Linked DNA regions of Homo sapiens: region 2 is linked to region 1. Evidence: fine-mapped expression QTL. A gene starts in region 1. The other region holds a variant in brackets. All regions are shown on one strand. Distances are from middle to middle.

Region 1 (5,452 bases):
GGAGGGAATCTACTTTAGATAGTATGATGATGAGGAGAGGAGACCTTTCAACTGAGATATGAAGAAAGGGAGAAAACATTCTAGGTCACATGAGGCAAGAAAGATCTTGGTGTGTTTGAGAAACTAAAAAGACCATTGTGACTCAGTGGTAACAAATGAGGAACAAGAGGCAAAATATGAAGTTGCAGAGAAAGATCATCATGTTGTGGCAGGGAGTTTGGTTTTCATTCCAAGCCATCAGATAGTATCACCTTAATCTTCCTTTGGTCAATGCCACAAAACTAACCACATCTATGTTAACTTTCTTTTCTCCGCCATCTGCCTCAACAAATGTCATGTCCCTCATCTTTCTGATGGCTAATCACTCCCTTTGTATCCTCCCTCCTCTGGTTACCCTTTCTCCTCTTTTCATATACTTTGCTTCTTCGTTATCTTCCCAATGGGTCAGTCCTGTCAACCAACCTACAAGACACCACCCATCCCCCACCCTCTTCCATGGGTTATCAACTGGTAATGATTCTACTAACCACTCAGATGTTCAGGCCCCAAAACCAGGACCTATCTTGACCACTCTCTTTTCTTTACTTTCCTATGCAGTTCATTGGTAAATTCTTCAGTTTTAAACTCAAAGATATTATCAGTTTGGTTCACTCTTGCTAATGTTAGCTTTCCTGATTTCGTCTTGATTTCTGAAATGGTCTCATGATTTGCCTCCTTGCCTCCATTCTTTCCTTCCTCTAATTTTTTCTTTATGCATCAGCCAAGGGTGGCTACTTATTTTAACATAGAATAGCTTAATTAAAATAAACAAAAATTTTTATAAATTGTGGTAAAATAGGCCGGGTGCAGTGGCTCACGCCTGTAATCCCAGCACTTTGGGAGGCTAAAGCGGGTGGATCACTTGAGGCCAGGAGTTCGAGACCAGCCGGGCCAACATCGCGAAATCCAGTCTCTATTAAAAATACAAAAATTAGCCAGGCATGTGGTGTGCACCTGTAGTCCCAGCTACTCAGAAGGCTGAGGCAGGAGAATAGCTTGAACCTGGGAGGTGGAGGTTGCAGTGGGCTGAGATTGTGCCACTGCACTCCAGCCTGGGTGACAGAGTGAGACTCTTTCTAAAAAAAAAAAAATTGTGGTAAAATAAACTTTTACTATAATGAAAGTAGTCTATGTGCTGCAAAAGTTACAATGAAAAAGATAGGCAAACACAAAGAAAAAAATACACATTTCCACTTCCAAAGATTACCAATACTAACACCTTAGGGTATAAGCCCACTATTTTTTTAGTTGTACATAAATACATATATGTGCATTTTTAAACCAAAATGAGATGCTGTAACATACTATTTCGTGACTTGCTCTTTTCAGTTAATGATCTTTTCCATGGCAATACAGTTCTATTTTATCCAATACTCAGTCCATCTACATTCATATTTCTTTAATGGTCCTGAAAATGCATTTTATAGACAGTCTGTTCAAACCAGGATCCAATTCAAACTGTTATGTCCCTTAAATTTCTTTTCATAAAGCAGTTGCTTTTATCATGACAAATTGTTGAAGAGATGGGCCAGTTATCCTGCAGAATGTTTCACCTTCTGGATCTGTCTAGTTACTTCCTCTGGCATCATTTAGTTTGTTCATCTATCTGTTGTATTTTTTATAAACTGTGTTAGATGCAAAGGCTTGACAGATTCAAGTTAAATATTTTTGCCTGGAATATACCATGATGATACTGTATACTACATCCCATCAAAAGACAAACTATCCGATTGAGCTACAACGTGGCCTTTAAAAAATGTAAATTATAAGTGTATATAGCTTCCTCTGCATTTATTATACAATACTAAACAAATTCTTCAACTTGGACAACAAGTTTCTGAATGATTTGATGCCTGCTTACTCATCCAACTTTATTCCATCCCATTCTATTTGTTTTTAAAGGTCTTGTCACATGTTTCGTTTCTAGTCCTGAAACATGGTTAAGTGCTTGCCTCCTAGGGCCTCTGCCGCAGGCTTTTGGTTTGGAGGCTCTCCTTTGCCACTCCACCCCTCTCCACTCTTCTCCTCTTCTGATATCAAGCATCTTCTCAAATTACAGGTGTCGTTTTTAATTTATTTAAAATTTTGTTCTTTCTACAAAACAGCAACCAGAGACACAGGTTCATTTTCAGTTAACCTACTCGGAGAAAACCTACTTTATCTTATTTAAATTAGGGTCCTCCAAGCGATCTTAACATCTCCTAAGTCCCAAGCACCCTGTTTTTTTCCTGATACTTTTTCCGTTTACCTTAAGGTCTGTGTCAACCTGACAGTAAGCTGCACGATGGCAGGGGTCTTGCCTACTAGGTTCCCTGTGCACAGCAGCCCGTCAACAGTAGTTGAATAAACATCATAGGTCACAATAACCCTGGGACTGCCTCTTGGGGAGGTAGCCGCAAACTCTCGCAGGTGGCAGTGACACCAGTACTTCTCCGGGGGGTTGTTCGAGTGGAGGAATACTCTTACGTGAAAGTGCTCAGTACACCACTGCGGCAGGAAGGAGGAAGGGAAGAATTCCAGATGGGGAGAAAGTAATATTTTGCAGCACAGTACAGGGTAAACTGGGTCCAGGTGGGCGTAGCCGCCGCGACACCTTCACGTGACCGCGGACAGCTTAAGGACCCCGCATCCAGTGCGCCTGCGCTGGAGCTCCCGGAAGTTGCCGGACCCGGAACGCAGGCGGAGCGCAAGTCTGTCAGCCAGTCAGTCCGCCAGTCCGCCAGCCCAGTACCTCTCTCTCCTCGGCCCTCGTAAGCTGTCCGCGGTCTGTTTGGCCCGAACGGCGGCGGAGGCGCTGATCATGGCGACATTCATCTCGGTGCAGCTGAAAAAGACCTCAGAGGTGGACCTGGCCAAGCCGCTGGTGAAGTTCATCCAGCAGACTTACCCAAGCGGCGGGGAAGAGCAGGCCCAGTACTGCCGCGCGGCGGAGGAGCTCAGCAAGCTGCGCCGCGCCGCAGTCGGTCGTCCGCTGGACAAGCACGAGGGCGCGCTCGAGACGCTCCTGAGGTGGGCGCGGGGCTGGGAGTGGGTAGGTTGTCTGCCAGCCGTCGCTCGCCGCTCCTCTTCCCGTCTCCCCCCTTCCTTCAATCCTGTAACCTGGGCGGAGCCGCCCCGTCCCGGCCTGACCAGGCGCGTAGGTGTGGTCTGCATTCTTTGCTGGTGAGCAGGACCCGCCCTGCAGGCCCGCTGTGACTGCCCGCTTGTCCTGCCTGCACGTCTGCTCTAGCCCTTGGTCGGCGAGGGCTCCGTGGATCAGATACCTGGGAGCAGCAGTCTGCCCTGTACTGATCTCTTTTGCCACATTTACTTAGAACTAGTCTTCACTTTTTTGGGTCTCTAACTGAAGCTTCCCCTTTCGCCCCATTTTTCCATCACTGTCTTTCTTGGGCCACATTTTGATTTCATAATAGTAGTTGCTTGAAGGCAGTGGGGGAAGTGGGGGAATTGGGACACTGGACCAAATGTCTGATCAGCTCATCACATTGTCCACATGAAATGGACCGTCTTCCTCAGTTCAAAATAATCAAATGATAGATGGAGAATTCTGAAAGTTAGGAGCTACAACTATTTGAAATAAAACTCTAGTTACATAGTTGAACCGTTCAAGGTAGGTTGTTTAAAAGCAGTTTGTTCACAAACAGATATATACACAGTAGAGTAAATTTGTTATTTTAGCAAACGCTTATTTAGCTCATGCTGATTTAATGAGGGTTCCTTTCATGATACTTAATAGTTATAAGAACATTTTTTACGATTTTATAGTTAAACATTTCTTTTGCATACCTTGTTAATCTCGTTTTCTCCGTATAGTATATTCTACTTGTTTCACAGGAGAATCACAATTGTATTCCAATCCAAGTAGCAGAAACCCAGGCTAAACTAGCTTGAGCTAAGAAAAGACTTATTCTGCCGGGCGCGGTGGCTCACGCCTGTAATCCCAGCACTTTGGGAGGCCGAGGCGGGCGGATCACGAGGTCAGGAGATCGACACCATCCTGGCTAGCACGGTGAAACCCCATCTCTACTAAAAATACAACAAATTAGCCGGGCGTGGTGGCGGGTGCCTGTAGTCCCAGCTACTCGGGAGGCTGAGGCAGGAGAATGGTGTGAACCTGGGAGACGGAGCTTGCAGTGAGCCGAGATCGCGCCACTGCACTCCAGCCTGGGCGACAGAGTGAGACTCCATCTCAAAAAAAAAAAAAAAAAAAAAAAAAAGTAAGACTTATTCTGCTAACTGAAAAGTCTAGGGATATTCCTTCCTTAGCTTTAGGTATCACTGGAGATCGTCTTGCCTCCGTGATGCTTCCCTCGAAAGCTTTGTTCATGTATTGAGAGGGATGGCTGTAGTGTAATAACAATCGTCCGCAACACTCAGTATCTTACAGAAGGGAGTGCTTTTCTCCTTAGCTCTGGTGGAAGTCCATGGGAGGCTCCTGGGTTTGTTTGCACCCATTTATGATGGTGGGAAATGGGCTAAGTTAATTGCCCTTATCTGAGTCATCCAGCCGGTTTAATTTCTCCTTACCCCATGGATCAAAGCAAGATGAGTCCGGACTGGGGAAGGGTTGGTTCTCCGAAGGAAGGGGTACTGAATAGATTGCTCAGAGGAATTAAGACCCCTTGGTGTCAAATTTTAGAGCTACAACTGTTGGGCTGCAAGGATCATTAGTCTAATAGCATAAGCATTTTTTTTAAAGTTAACCTAGAAATACTTAGCCATTCTTTAGAATTAACATAATTAAACAATTTCAAGGTAATTTTTATGTAGGCATGAATAGCATTCAGTGAGGATTTTCCATTAGTAATATTAAGAAAACATAGTTGTGGTATAATGAGCCCTGTGATAAAAATCTTGTTGAATATATCAAATTTGGTTCCAGCCCTCAGATTTGGGGTCTTCAGAAGCACTTGGTGCATGGGTTTTAAGCTAACAGACATGGGAGGTTGGTGGATAATGGTTTGGATACGGTTCTCCTGTCAACTTTAAAACTTAATTCATTTGTTCCTTCCTTTATTCTTTTTACCAGACTTAAATGTGTGAACTGTTCCTAGGTAGTGGACCTGTTGTAGATATAGTCTCTTTGAAACTAACCATGTTTCTTTAGTCACCTCTGTATAATCCCCTCCTGCCACATTAATTCAACAAATATTAAGTATTTTCACTTTTTGGGCTTCTAGAGGGGTTAGGGTAAGCTTGGAGATATTACTAAAGTTTATAATGGAGGTAGGTACAAAAGTTTTGTAGGTATATACGCTGTAAAATTAGATGTGAATCAGTTGTGTGATGTTCATTCAAATCCGGCAGAATATCTTATTTTTAATAATTATGTTTGGATAATTGTGTAAACTTAACATTAATTTTTTAACTTAATGAACTTTTTAAACTAATGAACTTTGAAAAACAGAGTTTA
Region 2 (5,000 bases), 28 kb after region 1:
TAATACTTACTGACTGCAGAAACATGCTGTTCATTTTAATACATTTGACTTTGAGTTTTCTCTGTGTTGTCTATTTATCTAACTCATGACACCTTTTTTTTTTTTTCTTTTTTGAGATGGAGTCTCGCTCTGTTGCCCAGGCAGGAGTACAATGGCGTGATCTTGGCTCACTGCAACCTCCGCCTCCTGGGTTCAAGTGATTCTCCTGCCTCAGCCTCCCGAGCAGCTGGGATTACAAGTGTGTGCCATCATGCCCAGCTAATTTTTGTATTTTTAGTAGAGACGGGGTTTCATCATGTTGGCCAGGCTGGTCTTGAACTCCTGACCTCAGGTAATCTGCCCACCTCAGCCTCCCAAAGTGCCGGGATTAACAGGCGTGAGCCACCGCACCCGGCCAACTCATGACACCTTTTAATCCCAGACTGATTTATTTCTTTTTCTTAGTATAATTTGTTTCATGAAAGCAAAGTTATTTTAGTATTAACAAAATATAATTGAGATGAAAAATCTGATGGGGAACATTTCACTAGTGAGCTCTGAAGGCCAGACAGAAATCACTGGCAATGGGTAGTAATGCTGTTCCTCAGAGGACTAGGTGTATGTACTACCTGGGGTGTCCCCTAACTACGGCATGTTTAATTATTTGAAAGATGAATTTGTTTGGGACCAAAGCAAGAGCATTGCAGTACTAAAAATATTTTAATGTTTATCCCCGCCTCTATTCTCATGTTAATTTTGAGGAAGTATATCTAAAAATAGTTTAATCAGATTGTTCCATTAGTTTACTTTGTTTTTCCTTGTAATTTACTTTTAATCTTTGTTAAATCTCTTGTTACGCTATAGAGTTTTAGAAAGATAACCTTATTGTCTGTAGGTCAGATGTTTTAGATTGGTTTTGCATAATATAAAAATTTAAATATATTAACTGTTCACTGAGTTAACATTTGAAATGACTTTTATATGTAACAGTAGGAAATTAAGTCTTGCTGAGTTCCTATAAAGAAATTCTTTTTCCCCCCTTTAGTTTGCTAGTGGTGCCTTTTTACATATTAAAGAGACGGTTTTATCTGCCTTAAGTCGAGAGCCGACCGTGGACATATCTCCAGATACTGTTGGGACCCTCAGTCTTATTATGCTGGCACAGGCTCAAGAAGTATTTTTTTTAAAAGCCACAAGAGGTAACTCCAATTTATCTTTTTGTTGCATGTGAAAAAAAGTGATAAGGCTTTTAAATTAAGAAAGTGATTAGAATATAATATGTTCAATGTCGAGCTGTCCTTCTTGAACTTGATACATGAATTATGGAAAATTTTCAGCTATCCTTTTCTGAATTTGTGGCACAAATTTACATTTAAGAATGTAGGCTGTGTTTGAAGTCATGAAATAGATCTTTAGTAATTGTCTTTAAACACTCCATTCTGGAATAGTATTTATGTATGTTTTTAACATGTCAGACATTTATTCGCAAATATTTATTGGATACTTACTCTGTGCCAGTCACTGTTCTAGTTTCTAGATAAACGGAGTTAGAAAACAACTTAGGTTTTGGCGACGGGAGAGATGATAAGCAAGAATTAAGTAGACAGGATAATTTCATAAATAATTGCTATAAGATTTCAGAAATAATTGCTATAAAAAATAAGAGAATTATATGATAGTGGCTGGTGGTATGGTTATGGGATAGGGATATAGGGGAAGCTGGGCTAATTTTAGATTCATTAGTCAAGAAGGCTTTCTTTCAGGAGGTCCTCTTTAAAGTAGACCTAAATGACAAGAAGGAGTCATCCAGGCACAGTCCCTAGCCCTGGGAATGAGGGAATAAGAATAATTCTTATAAGGCATATAAGTTAGCATGAGAGATTGAAAATGGGCTGAATATGTAATATGGGCTGAAACTGAAAATAAGAGATAAGTCATCATGTGGAAGAAATAGGAATTGGAATACTTTTTTCTTTTAAAATAACAGCTTATATTGAGATAGAATTTATATACACTCAAGTTCACCCTTTCTAAGTATACAACATAAGATTTTTAGTATATTCATAGAGTTTTGATTACCACTATCTTATTTTAGAACATTACCATCATCCCAGAAAGAAGCCATGTACCCATTAGCAGTCACTCCTCACTCCCCTTTCCCCCACTGCTGGCAACCACTAATCTATTTTGTCTGTTCTAAATTTTGTGCAGAAAATGTGATTTCATCAAGAAAGATGTTTTCAGATGCGTGTACAAACTTGTGACCTCAGTGTTTATACTGAGACATGTCAGATTAGCTCATATTTATTTTAATTATAATGGTCATATTGTATTCCAGATAAAATGAAAGATGCCATCATAGCTAAATTGGCTAATCAGGCTGCAGATTATTTTGGTGATGCTTTCAAACAGTGTCAATACAAAGATACTCTCCCCAAGGTCAGTTATTGTTTTTATAAACACTTGCTTACTT[T/G]GCATGTGAAATATTTAGACTTTTTTGTGTATAAGAAGCAAGTTGAAACTTATAAAGAAATTTGAAGTTTTAATAGAGTTATCTGAAGTATATAGTAGAAATAGTTTTTTTTTTTTTTTAATTTAAGATGCATGAACAATTCTTTTATGTTTAGGGGATGCCTTTGTCTTTACCTTTTACTAAACTTGTTTTTCCAAGCTAGAACTCTTTCTGGAAAATGTTGACCATCTGTTTTCAATACTTTTATCAAATCAAGGCATTGTGTAGTTCTGAATCATTGGTGATTTGGTACAAGCATGTATACTTGAGCATGTTGATGATTCACACTTTTAATTATTGTCCTGTTTTCTTAAAGATGAGCCTTAAAGCGCAAAAACAGACATAAAGAAAAAAGGAAAAGAAAACTTAACAAATTCATCTGATACTTTGATTAGAATTCAGTTTTGCCAACAGGGATAAAAAATTGGGCTGCTAATGGACAGCTAAGGAAAGCAACCATCTTAAACCACATATCACAGGAAGTATAATGTTTTAATGTAAACCTTTCTGAAGTGACAATTGTAAAGACTATTCAGTGATGATCATTTGTTAATGACAAAGCAAATCACTAGTAAATTTGGAATGATTAATAAAGAAAACTTAAAGATTGAGTGAAATATATGTTTCAACTACTTCCTTCAGAAATGTTCAAGGAATTAGTTTCATCATATGGTATCTGTTACATGATTTTTTTTGGTAGGGGAATTTATTGATTTGTAAGTCATATTCAGGAATCTTTGTACATTAAAAAATTGCAGACAACTTGGGGGTGAAGTAAAAATGCACATAAGTGCATTAACAGTACTTATTACTCAGAAAATGATCAATAAGGAATTAATGTGACGATTCCTGGGGATTTAAGATACACCAAGAGCCTAGTAGAAATTTGCCCAGGATTCTTGGGTATTAACAGCCTTCCTCTTAAAAAGAGACTTGGGATCTCCTCTCATGTTTTTTTCATCTGAAAGACCTCATGTTCAGCTGCACAGTGTTCCGTTACATCCTGTTGGGCCATTAGTTCAGTCCTGTCATGGAGAGAAGAAAGTCACCTACAAAGACTTGGAAGCTACCTCTGCAGCATTCCTGGTATTCCTTGAAAATCTCCTGTTTCAGAACCAAGTTGCTCCAGCCTTACCTTGAGAACTGGCATGAGTGTAGTTTGAAATTTAGATGTCTTTTATTTTTTCCTTTTTACTAATAAAGCTCATAAGGTATTTTCATATTCTAGTTATAAAACTGAAAAGTCTGCAAGTAGTGATCCAGGAAGGTAGGAAATTATTCCCTGGGAGACAGGAAAGCACACAAGGTAGTAATTCAGTTTTTGATTCTCTTACATTTTTTGTTTAGATAGTGATTGTCTAGCCTAATTCCTTGGATTTTTTTAATATCATATACTTCCTAAAAGCAGTGAGGTTACAGGTTAGATTTTGACGTTTTGGAAGAGCCACCACTAGTATAATTGCTTTCCTGCTTTATGTCTTTGGATCTTTTGAAATTAATTTTGACTGGAATTATTTTCAAAACAAATAGGCAAAATAACACTTTATCATTATCATTGGTCATATACTTAGTGCATTTGTCTATGATATGTTTTTGAGTATATGACACTGAAATATTAGTGTATCTATGATACTAAATCATTTTTATATGGCTAAAATCATCTTCAGTAAGAACTCTCTTAGGATATGAATTTAAGTGAAAATTTACTGTCTTTTTTTTAAAACATGATGAAACAGTAATCTATAGAGCAATTTCATTAGTATATGTGAGTAATGATGGTTTAGTTAACTCTACAGGCTGGGTAAGGGCTCATAAGAAAGCTTCTAAAGCTCTGTGCTTTGTGTTCCTCTGTGAATGTCCATTCTACTTCTCTTTCTAATAATGCATGCTTTTCTTTTTGTAAACAAAATGTTGACTTCATGGATCAATTAAAGAGAATTGTAAAAACCTAAATTGGCTTCAGTTAACAGTTAAAAAAAACCCCTTCAATTGGAAGAAAAAAAATTTAATTCATAGATTTCAATCCACACAAAATCATGTCGTCTTCTCTGTTTACACCTAATGACTAACCTTAATCTCTAAACCATTAATGGGGTGATTCTAATTTCTGTCTTCTTTTCCTTTTTCTTCCTGCATCCCATGTTGTCTGTGGTGGTTTGTGTGGTTGGACTCTCCCCTGGTCAGTATTTTTATTTCCAGGAGGTGTTCCCTGTCTTGGCTGCAAAGCACTGTATCATGCAGGCCAATGCTGAGTACCATCAGTCTATCCTGGCAAAACAGCAGAAGAAATTTGGAGAAGAAATTGCAAGGTTACAGGTGAGTCTCTTGGTAATAAATATTTAAGTAACTAACTTGGATCTCTCTTTTTTTTCCTAGTGAGATTTCCAAGTTTGCCCATAAAAACCTTTCCCGTTCATCACCCCTATCAGCAGGGACAAGTGATTGTTTTTATCTTTAGACTTTACTGCATGTTTTTTTGAGGTCTCATATTTTATCTAAAAAATAGATG

The links. PIP is the estimated chance that this variant, and not a neighbour inherited with it, causes the effect.
Region 2: its variant is fine-mapped to the expression of PDCD6IP in whole blood (INTERVAL, PIP 0.95).

What each region holds. Positions count from the first base shown.
Region 1 is chr3:33,795,890-33,801,341 of GRCh38, forward strand. PDCD6IP (programmed cell death 6 interacting protein) reads left to right here and starts at 2,741. Exons shown (of 18, transcript NM_013374.6): 1 at 2,741-3,048. The coding sequence starts at 2,840. PDCD6IP-DT (PDCD6IP divergent transcript) reads right to left here and starts at 2,630. Exons shown (of 2, transcript NR_183731.1): 1 at 2,506-2,630; 2 at 1-2,133. RefSeq lists enhancers at 2,608-2,957, 2,904-3,437.
Region 2 is chr3:33,824,163-33,829,162 of GRCh38, forward strand. It overlaps PDCD6IP (programmed cell death 6 interacting protein), which reads left to right. Exons shown (of 18, transcript NM_013374.6): 5 at 1,025-1,178; 6 at 2,318-2,418; 7 at 4,691-4,807. Among named protein-coding and RNA genes, the nearest start is that of PDCD6IP, 28 kb to the left of the region's middle. The variant T/G (reference allele first, on the strand shown) is at 2,453.